Linked DNA regions of Homo sapiens: region 2 is linked to region 1. Evidence: fine-mapped expression QTL. A gene starts in region 1. The other region holds a variant in brackets. All regions are shown on one strand. Distances are between the middles of the regions.

Evidence for each region. PIP is the estimated chance that this variant, and not a neighbour inherited with it, causes the effect.
Region 2: its variant is fine-mapped to the expression of SLC38A1 in whole blood (INTERVAL, PIP 0.96).

Annotation. Positions count from the first base shown.
Region 1 is chr12:46,266,609-46,271,985 of GRCh38, reverse strand. SLC38A1 (solute carrier family 38 member 1) reads left to right here and starts at 2,943. Exons shown (of 17, transcript NM_030674.4): 1 at 2,943-3,460. LOC105378248 (a long non-coding RNA gene) reads right to left here and starts at 2,915. Exons shown (of 2, transcript XR_001749101.1): 1 at 2,828-2,915. RefSeq lists silencers at 2,394-2,493, 2,574-2,753 and enhancers at 3,164-3,263, 3,314-3,363, 2,503-3,485, 3,484-3,543, 4,469-5,377.
Region 2 is chr12:46,181,026-46,186,402 of GRCh38, reverse strand. SLC38A1 (solute carrier family 38 member 1) reads left to right here. Exons shown (of 17, transcript NM_030674.4): 17 at 1-3,340. Among named protein-coding and RNA genes, the nearest start is that of SLC38A1, 85 kb to the left of the region's middle. The variant C/A (reference allele first, on the strand shown) is at 2,265.

The DNA of each region.
Region 1 (5,377 bases):
CAGGCTGAATCCTCTTTGGGGTATAATTGATTTTTCTTCACAAAGCTGCCCCACCTTCCTGGAACCATACAAAAACAAGCTATGGGGGCTACAAGAAAACTCTCAGGTGACCTAAAGCTACCCAATTCTATTTTCATAGTACAAATTCCTTCCCTGGCATCACTTTCAGAGCAGATACAGAATTTTCTCAGTTCCATAGGGCAGTCTGCAGTCAAACCTGGTAATGTGTCCTGAATACCTTAATAACATTGGAAATCTGTTCAAATGGGAAAGGTCCACAAATAACATTAGATACTATCGACAAGTCTCTTGGACCTCACAACCCTATTACTGAGAAAACTAACTCCCTGGACTCTACTGAAATAGGGCAGTGGTTCCTATTCAGAGACAGAGTGGCCCGAGACCCCTTCCACCCACTAACCCTCCAAAGATGGTTATTCCAGAATCAGGGAACGTTTTAGATCCAGCCACAGAAAACTGGCTTACCAGTCAGCTCTGGATGCAAGATTTGGATGTGCCACTTAGGGCTGTGTGGACTTGGGATAAATTCCCTAACCTTTGAGTCAGGGATTAGGATAGGCTGCCCTATCAGGAATGTCATGAGAATTAAACGAGAGACCATCTGTGAAGTGTTTAACCTGCTGTTTGTCTCTCAGTAAGCACACAGTGAATAGAGGAATCATCTAGACATCCCTGGCCTCAATTTGAGAAAACAGCAGCCTCCATGTTGATGTTTACTCTGGTTCTAGGTTGTCAACTAAAATCCAGAGAAGGGGTGAAGATCCTTCTAACTCTAGGCCCAAGAATGTCTGATTGCAAATGGTTGTAGCACCACTGTGAAGACTGAGCACGGATTTTGAATTCAGACCTGAAAGGGAATCGCTTCCCCTTCACTAATTACTGTCTTAGGTGAACATGGCCAATTCAACTTTGTACTTGTTTTCTTAAAGAGGATAATACCCAACTGAGGGATTGAAAGCTTTAAATGAGATATTTACATGTAAAGTCCTTAGCACAATAGCTGCCATATCATAGGAGCTCAGTTCATAACTGTTGATTCCAATTCAAAAAGTGCTAAATAACTGCAGTCGTTTTGATATACAGAAACTAGCAAGTAAGTTAAAATTGGAACCAAAAGACAAGCTTGGTTCAGATAATCTCCAAACAGCGATGAATACACATTCTGCCTTTAATAAGGTAAATATTCCAACAGGCCTATTAAGCTATGGCTCACAGTTCATCTACTTTACCTATTCAGATTTCTTACCTTATTGATAAGAATTATTTGTGCCAGGCAAGGTGCACACTACTTAAAATCATTAATTTCACAATAAATTAGCTTCCTCTAGTAAGGTAGAAAGAACCAACTTTTTGATGACCTATAGAATATTGCTATGTTGTGTGTACTCTTCTCCCCTTTTTCACAAATTTAGAAAACAGGATTAGGACAAAAGTAAAGCAGATGAGGGAAGCAGTAAGTGTCAGAGGAAGAAATTGAATGCAGGTCTGTCTGAGCTAGGCTGCCCATGTGTTTGCCCTTTTGGTTTGCTCTGAACTTTCTGTTTTTCAGTATTTCTCAAGAGCATGCCTTCTAAATAGGATTCTCAGGAAGCCACTGTTGAACTAATAAAGGCCATTTACTGCCATTCGAAGGGAATAAGAAGTTTAGTCCGTGATGAGTTTCAAATTTGGTTATCATCTTGCTTTTCCAGTGGTGATGAAAAAGCAAAATTCACCCAAATACAATGACTACTGTCTACTTGAAACGCTCCAGGTAGTTAATTTTTGAATTATGATTCACCTTCCCTTTCCTGTTTTGATGAACCATGAACAGGAGACTGAACCTTCCCTATCAATAAAAAGCTCGCGTTTCCACCCTGCAAATTCGCGCTATGACAGTCTAATTGGCTGAGGCGCAGGTGGGATTTCCTGTCGCCATTTTAAGACACAACTCCTCTGCAAGCAAGTGCCCAGCCAGTGAAAGGGGGCTGTGTCTGAAACAAAGAGTAAGCGGGAAAAAAGGGAACCAGGCCCAGTTGCCCCTGCTCCCCTCCATGCCGCTCCCTCGTCCCCCGGACTTGGAGCGCCCCAGCTCCGTTAACCTGGACGCACCAGGTCCTTCGGTCGGGACCACGTGGGGTCTCCAGGCCCTCCAAGAGCTGGCCCCCGGCTCTTTGCGCCTAGGCCGGTGCTTTCTCGGTGCTCAGCAAATCCTTCTGGTTCACCTCACACCCAGTCCCCAAAGCAGAGCTCCACAGGGCAGATCTCAGGAAGGGCTGACCAGGTCTGCGGGTGCTGGATCCGGAAGAGGGGAGGTGCCTCCCGCTTCAGGTTAGGGACAAAGGGTTTTTAAAGGTGCCCGAGCTCCCCGCCGCCCCTGCCACTTCGGTCCCCTTCCCGCCAACCCGGGCCATCTGCAGGCTGTGCCCAGGGCCAGCCCTCCGCTCCAACGCTGCCCGTAGTCCCAGGCGCTGCCCGCGGCTCTCCGGGCTGCGCTCGGACCTGCCACTCCCGCGGCCATCCTCATGCTGCGCCCTTCCCACAATGCAACTCCCTCGCTCCTTCGGCCCCGGCGGGGCTCTGGCGTACCCAAAATGCAGGCCCCAGCGGAACGCACAGCCCTCCTGTCCTCCGCCGGTGCCCCTTTAGCCGCCCCACCCCCATCCCTAAGGGCTCTCATTCTCCAGCTGCAGCCGCAGCTGGGTTCCGAACACGCCGCCGGGCCCCGGGAGGGAGAGGGGCAGGTGCCAGGGCGGCGCGCAGCCTCTGCTCCCGGTGCCAGCTTCAGTGCGCCGGGCACACGCGCGCCCCGCAACCCCTCCCTCACCCTTTCCCCGTTGCTCAATCTCCGCCAGCCGCGGTCGCTGCATCGTCAGAGAGCTGCAAGAGGGAGGCAGCAAGGTGCGGCCGCCAGCAGTGACACCATGTGACCGGCACGGCTCACTGACACGCAGCTTTGGTTAAAGAGCGGGCGCACAGGAGGGGAGGAGACCGCGCGCGGGACGGGGAGGAATGGCCTGTCCGCGTTAAACCATCACAAGCCATGGTTGCGGAAGGGCCACGCGTCCCCCAGTAGGAGAATGACTCCGATTCGTGACCCTCAGCGCCGGTGCATGTCGATGTAAGTGCGAGGCCGGCGAGCAGAGTGTGAGTGGGGGTTGGTGGTGAGGGGAGATTCTGATGCAATCGGCCCGGAAAGGAGGAGAGCCAGGCGAGCGCGGACTGGGGCGGCCACGCCACTCCGCCAGAAGGTCGCCAGGAGCCTCCGCCCTTCACCTTCCTCCGAAATCCGCCAGGCCACGCCAAGCTCCCTGCCCAACCCTTACTGACGGGGGCCACATTTTCCCGGCCTCCGCAGCCAGACCTTGACACAAAGGACATCAAACTGCCGAGGGTAAAAACCCCGGAAGGGCGGACACCTCCACATCGCCTTTTGCCACCTTTCCCTTTATTTCCGGAGGTAAGGTGATTATCCGTTCCCGGGGAGGGCTGGGCGAGCGGCAAGGGGAGATTTAGATGTCGGAGGAGGAGGTAACGTAGAAATCATCTCTGCGGGCGTGAAAGCAGAGAGAGCTCGGCTGTGCCCGATGCTTTCGGATGTTGCTTTTAGGAGAGGAAAAGTCCAGGTCTCCTGTGCTTCCCGAACGCACGCGGCAGCGGGAGGAAGCGCCAGGGCCCCCGAGTTCACCTTTGCGTGGGCTGTGGCTTACTTTTTGGTTTGTTTTCCTGTGACTTTGGTGTGTTTTCCTGTGGCTGTGGCAGAGTGTGGTACCAGATCTGGTTCCATTTTTACGAGAGCCAGGAACCACGCACGTCTGGAGGGAGAGCGCAGCTGACCCGAGGGCGCGACCGTGTTCTGGGAGTGTTTGAATCCCCGGCCTTTGGTGAAAATTTCCTGTGTCCGCAAGGCCCAGAGGAGATCGTGTGATGTCCGGGGGGTGCTGCGTGCGGCCGGCTGGGTAGCGGCCGCGGACCACCACTAAACCGGGGCATGTTTGCCGTCCTTCCTGGTGCTCTGCCCCTCTGTAACGCGGGGAAGTAGGAGGGCGCGGGGAGAAATTACTAAAGGATGCTTGCAGTGACTCACTGTCCTTTCCTGCCCTGAAGAGGATTTTCTAAAATGCAGAGGGTGGCAGGGGACAGAGGTAGTGTTTTTTCGAGAGCCGGGATGTGCTGGAGCCAGCGAACAAAAGGCCACCTCTTGCGCGGTCTTGGGCGCAGACTGCTCTCGCTTCCAGTCCCACCTCCTCCCCAACCCCCGGCACCTAGTTCGCGTCCCTAAACGTTGCCGCAGAGGCCTTTAAACGCGTGGGTCGGTGCCGGGAGGAGAGCGCATCTTCGCCCTTGTGCGAGCCCCTTGCCCCCTAAATTATCCACCTCCTGGCGCATGGGGCTCCCCAGCACCCACTGGGACCCAGTAGGTTACCCGGCTGCCTGGGCACCGTTTGCCTGCCAAATCGCCCGCCTGAGGTTTGTGCTGAACTGTAGTTAGAGAAGGCACAAGTGCATATGGCAGCAAAAGGAATTTCGCGGTACCCGCGTCACGCCGCTCCCAGTGCCTTTCACAGGCTGCCTTGGGCTGGGGAAGGTGGTGCTACAATTCAGAGTCCTTTGTCTTGCTCTGCGGCGCGGACCCGGGGTTTGTACAAACCCTCGTTCTCTGTTAGAAACCTAACTGCCGCCAGGATCACGTACTTTCTCGGACGAATCCGCGGTGATGTGTGTAGCAAAAGTGAAAAAAGACGCCTCTGCTAGAAAACGGTATTTATTTGCGTTTGGAAGGGGTTTTGACCTCTCTGCAGTGGGTTTTTACATTTTTCAATATAAGGGGGAGGAGGAAAATAAATTTATGGTTTGCAGAATGCAGGGCCCAGCGAGGGTGTAATTTGTCACCTTGATAAAAGAAACTGTGCAGCAACTCGTGCTTTTTCTGACGTCAGAAGGACAACGGAAATAAAACCTGAGCTCGGTGCATGGCTGGCCTCGTTGTCAAATGTCTCATGCCAATTTGGTACTCCCGAAATCTTGCAAAACAGCCAATTCCGGGGTACTGACCTGGTGTGGACCCCCTGGATTTTGGTTCGACCCCAGCCTCAAAATGGCCTTTCTCTTGAGAGTCACTCGATTTCTCAGTATGTCGCTGTAAGCAATTGGAAACTGGAATAGTTTGGTTTGAGGTCTTAATCTTGAGGTTTATTCGCTTTTTAAAAAAATGTGGCCAATAAACATTTTCTACAGAGGGCTTACTGTGCGACTGGCAGCAACTAACAAGATTTGTTTCACCTTCTATGAAGCTTCCGTTCTCAGGGGGAAATAGACTATATAAATGTAGGCATATACATTTCAGGTATTCTTAGTGCAATGAAGAAATAAAACA
Region 2 (5,377 bases), 86 kb after region 1:
TACTATACCCTAGGCATGGGGAGCAGCACGTTTTCCTTTGGTAGGTAGGATCTCTATACTAGTGAACAGTGCCAGTTCCACACTTTGGACTTAGAACTGTTCTCTAGTTATTGTAACACAGAATACTGTCAATCCCTAATTTACTTAATGTTACTTATTGGAAGTGGGGCTGATGAAATACGCACAGGAGGGAAATCTACTGTGTTTAGGCACAGGCAGCCCCAGTGTATAAGGAGATCATATTCCAAAAGGTTGTCAGTTGGTTGTTTGCAACCTGGAATGTATTTTCCTTTAGAGACCAGGTTATCCATGGTGGTTAGGCCCCTAGAGCAGCTGGAAAAGATGATCAAACCAATAGGTTAGCTGACATCGAATAATGTAATAGGTTTGCTAAAGAATCTAACCATCAAATATAATATTGTTTCCAGGGAGGGTGTTTGTTCAGAGTTGCCTGTTAGTAGAATCTGGACTGTCCATCCCAGCCACATCCCACCTACTGGACAGTAGGGGTAGAGATGCCACCAGACTACAGGTGACCAGATTGGCCTGAAACATGGTGTCCAGTAAAAACGGGGAGGAATAAGTCCATGACTGCTGGAGAGCTTGGTGGTAGGAGGAGGGTGAAGGAGGGTGAGGGGGCCTCTCATGGGTCAGAAACCTCCAGGGACATCCCTCAGCTGGTAACTCTGCTGTTGTCCGGAGGGTTCAGGCTTGGTGTGCCTTCTTCTGTTTGTCTGACTTTTGGCTCCTATGGTTCATCTCCTGCCCTGCCCACCACAGAAAAGGATGCTGCTGCATAGCTTCTCCAATGTACCAGTCATTGAGGCCAGCGCGCAGCACTTTTAATGTTTTTAGTGCTAGTAACTGTGTTTTAACTCTCCAGGAATAAGCTGGGAGGTTAGAAAACAAGAAAAAAGGGGGAAAAAAAAACCTCTCCACCCACTTTCCTTTTTTACAGTTACAGACCCTGTTGAGAAAAAGAAGCACCCAGATGGGTGATGGTGATAGGGCTTGTGGTGGACACAGGGTTGTGGTAAGATTCCTCAGTGCTTCGGCGAGCACCTAAGACTATTACCCTGGAACTGACTGCTTTCTAGAGCTTGATTCATGCCTCTAAGCCAGTGGTTCTCAAAGTGTGGCCCCTAGACCAGTAGCATCAGCATCATCGGGGACCTCATTAGAATGCAGATTCTCAGCCCCCTCCCAGACATGGTGAAGTCAGAAGCTCTCAGGGAGGGACTCAGCAAATGATTCTAAAGCGCATCAAGTTTGAGAACCACCCTAAGCCAATGAGTCTCCCTTTTACTTCCCATTAGTCCTCCCTCACCAGATGATTCCTAGGACTCATGGTGCAACATACAGGAGCCAGGCTTTAGGGAGGGGAGGAAAGGAGCCTGGCGGCAGGGGTCTCTGCAATGGCAAGAAAGTGAGTGAATCCAGCGCTGCCACCTGGTTATCCCCTTCTCGTTGAAAATAGCAGCGCAGGTGCAAATTCCTAAACACAGGCTGCCTGCACTCGGTGTTACCTCGGGCTGAGGCATGATAATATTTTATTTTTTAAAGCTGTGAGGAAATGAAAGTGAGGCTTTGGTTGGGGCGAGGCAGTTGTGAAAGAAATTAAAATAAAAGACCCTTTGTAAATGCAGACTTAGAAGAAATACTGAATTTGTGTCAGAAGTTCTCCAGTGTTTGTGTTAATCGTGTGGTGATAATCCTGTCCTCCTTTTAAAGCGAATTCTCTACTGAAAGGTCTGCTCTGCTTAAGGAGCTACAAACTGCTCTCAAAAGAATGAAATACTGAGTTCCAATTCAGTGAGGCACAGTGTTGGACTATGGCACATTTAGTTGGAGTCGGGGGGAGGTCAGGAATATGATCAGATAATGGATTTTATACCTTAGAGCAAAATCTATTAGTCTCTCTCAGTTTATCAATTTAAATGGCTTTAGGCTTATAGGGGGTGTAAACTTTAAGAATATAATTCTCCCATTCAAGTTTACAGCAAACATCTAGCCACCTTCAAAACAAAGAATATACAGACCATCATTTAGCAATACTAATACATGATTTTCCTTGGGGATGGCAGGTTTGAGAATCCTTTAGCAACAGGACATACTTCCCCTAAATTACAGTGAATTATTTATAACGAGATAAAGCTTTCAGGTACAAGCTGAAGGTGGGGTGTCTAACAACTAAAAACTATCACTAAATCTCAAAGAGAAAGTTCTTGCAAAATATGTAAAGTTCACAAGGTGCAGACATTTTC[C/A]TTCTTTAGGCTTTTATCTAAGGAAGGGCTATGAAACTGGGCCCATCTGTATACAGGCTCAAATTTACGTTTTTAAAGGAAGAATCTATGCAGCTGAGGCTTATTGCAGGAAATACTTCATTTGTATGTAAATATTATTGTAAATAAATAGGAGGCTGTATATTTTTGAAGTTGTTGATCTGCACTGAAATAGAAGTCTCTAGGATCTGCATATAAACAATAAATGTTTCCTAGAAATTAGTGGTTTTGTTTGGGAATTAGAAAAATTTACATTCTCTCCCAGGTAACATAGTTCTCTCAATGTAAACTTGGAACCTGAAACCCTACTTAATTTAGAGAAAGAAATGTCTGAGAAATAGTTCCCTTGATTTCTTATGCTGGCATTAAGATCAATTATTTAACAGATAGTCCTCTGAGATACAAGTAAGGAATATTTAGACACAAATCCTTGTCCTATAGAAACAGATATACCCAAATGACAAATTGTTTCTTCATAATGATCTTCCATTTTTAACACTGATACCACTACACAGTACATATGAAAACAGAAGCTGGGGAGAAGAATGTTTTTTTCACAATTGAATTGCTGCATTTCTCAAACTTTGGGATCTATGAAAGCGGGGAGAGGGAACCTGAATATTAATTATGAGCACAAATTTGAAGGAAAGAAAACAAAGAACCATTATCTAATCAAGCTTTGAAAGTCCTGCATGTTTGCCTTTTATTTTAGTGTTGACGCCAACATAGACTGTCTAAGGTATTTTTTTCCCCAAACACTTGAATCTTGGTCGTTGGTATGTAATCCACTCTCTAGAGTCCAGTGTACTTTAGACTTCATCTGAGTCCAATACATGTACCACACTACTGTTTTATTAATGTAAAAACCTTGTAAATGAATTTCAGATGGGTGATTTAAGTGAGTCACAAGTCACAAAACTTTGCTATTCATAGTTAATCAAATAGAACTGGGTTTTTTTTTTCAGAGTGTGGTGTAAATAAAGAAATATAAGAAGTTCTGTTCTATAACTGCTCTGTTAACATAGTTTTTAAACATTAAAAAATGTGAACTAAAAGTATTTAAAAATGTTGTGTTTGTTCTTTTGCAATGCAATACTAAAATGGGGCAGTTGTGTACTATATACACTATTCAGGATTGCTGGAGAAGGGTTATACATATTTGTCAGTGTTCTAGATCATAGAAGGTTATATATTTAAGCACCCTAACGTAAATATTTTTAAAAATACTTCTGATAGAAATCTATCTGGTCTGAAACATATACCACATTTCTCCATTCTTCATAATCAGAGTAGATTCACCATAATATTTTCTTTTTTAAGTCAAGTTTACCTTTATAAGTATTAATTTCTGCCCTGTGTTGTAGGAAGGAGTTGAGTCTTCCTCTACCCACATTGCTGCCACCTATAAAAGAAGAAATTCTATCAACACTTCATTTCTCAGTAACTATTGGGTCAAAGCTAGTGCAGCCTTGTCTTTTTATCCATCACCAACTCCTCTCCAGCATCTTAGAAAGGCTTTACCAGACCAGCAAGATGGCCAAAGTCTGATATCCAAGTTCTTCTTGTGGACAGGGCTAGCACAGGAATAGCCTGGGTCTTTTACGGTGTGGCTGGGAATGAAGACCCCCTTGATGAACTCTTCTGGCCTACCCAGGTGACAGCAGTGCATTCTGTAGGGCCTCGGTGGCACACACGCAAAACTCAAAGTAGAAACCTGGGGTACGGGAGTCCAAGTCATGTTCTCCAATATAACTTCGTTAGGAATAAAGCTGATATTTTTATCCTTACATGCTTCCTATGCCTACTTCTTAATTGATCAAAACCCCAAGGGCAAAGGGTGTGAGTGAGTAATTAGCACTTTTAAACTCAAGCAGTGGTAAAAGTTAAAAGACTATTGAGAATCTGAGCAGATTTTGTTCCAAATTGAAAGGGCCAGTCCTGCAGTGCCTTTGATAGTTCTGGCTTCTTCCTTCTACTCTCCCTCCATGAGTATTTGCTAATACTGTTCCATTCCGTCCTTTTTTACACAGAATTGTCAGGGAAGAGCTATTCTCTGCCTTTCCCATGGAATTAACTATGGGCTTGTATTAGGGCTCTCCAGAGGGACAGAATTAATAGGATATATGTATATATGAAAGAGAGTTTATTAGGGAGAGTTGGCTCACATGATCACAAGGCGAAGTCTCACAATAGGCCGTCTGCAAACTGGGGAAGAAAGAAGCCAGTAGTGGCTCAGTCCGAGTCCAAAAGCCTCAAAAGTAGGTAAGCTGACAGTGCAGCCTTCAGTCTGTGGCCAAAGGCCAGAGAGCCCCCAACAAACCCCTGGTGTAAGTCCCAGAGTCCAAAAGCCAAAGAACCTAGAGTCTGATGTCCAAAGGCAGGAGGAATAGAAGGAAGCACCCAGCATGGGAGAAAGATGAACACCAGAAGACTCAGCAAGCCAGCTTAGCCCGTCTTCTTCCACCTGCTTTGTTCTAGCCATGCTGGCAGCTTATTGGATGGTGCCCACCCCCATTGAGGATGGGTCTTCCTCTCCCAGTCCACTGACTCAAATGTCAATCTCCTCTGGCAACCCCCTTGCAGATGCACCCAGAAACAATACTTTACCAGCTATCTAGGCATCCTTCAGTCCAATCAAGTTGACACCTAATATTAACCATCACGGGGCTTAATGATAACTTTGCAACTCAGATGTCCTGTTTTCTTACTTTCTAGATTTATAATTGTGTTCTACCTAGTTTGGAAAGGGTGGATGAGGCCCAAATAACTAGGCCAATTTTTGAATATCAATTTTTAAAAATCTTTTATTAGTTTACATGTTAGGCTAATCCAAGTTGGTAGAATAATCTGCTCATTGGGAGAGTCAGTACACCACCAAAATAACCTGACAAATTACCCAAATTATATAAAGCCATAGCACTTAGAATTGAACTGGGTACAAATAAATAAATAGATCATAATAGTGAATGCATAAATGATCCAAAAAATACCAGAAAGGTGGCCTTTCAAATCAATGGGGAAAAATAAAGGTTACTTAATAAATGATAGGAAAAAATACATAGTTTTTGAAGAAAATGAAACCAGATTTCTATATT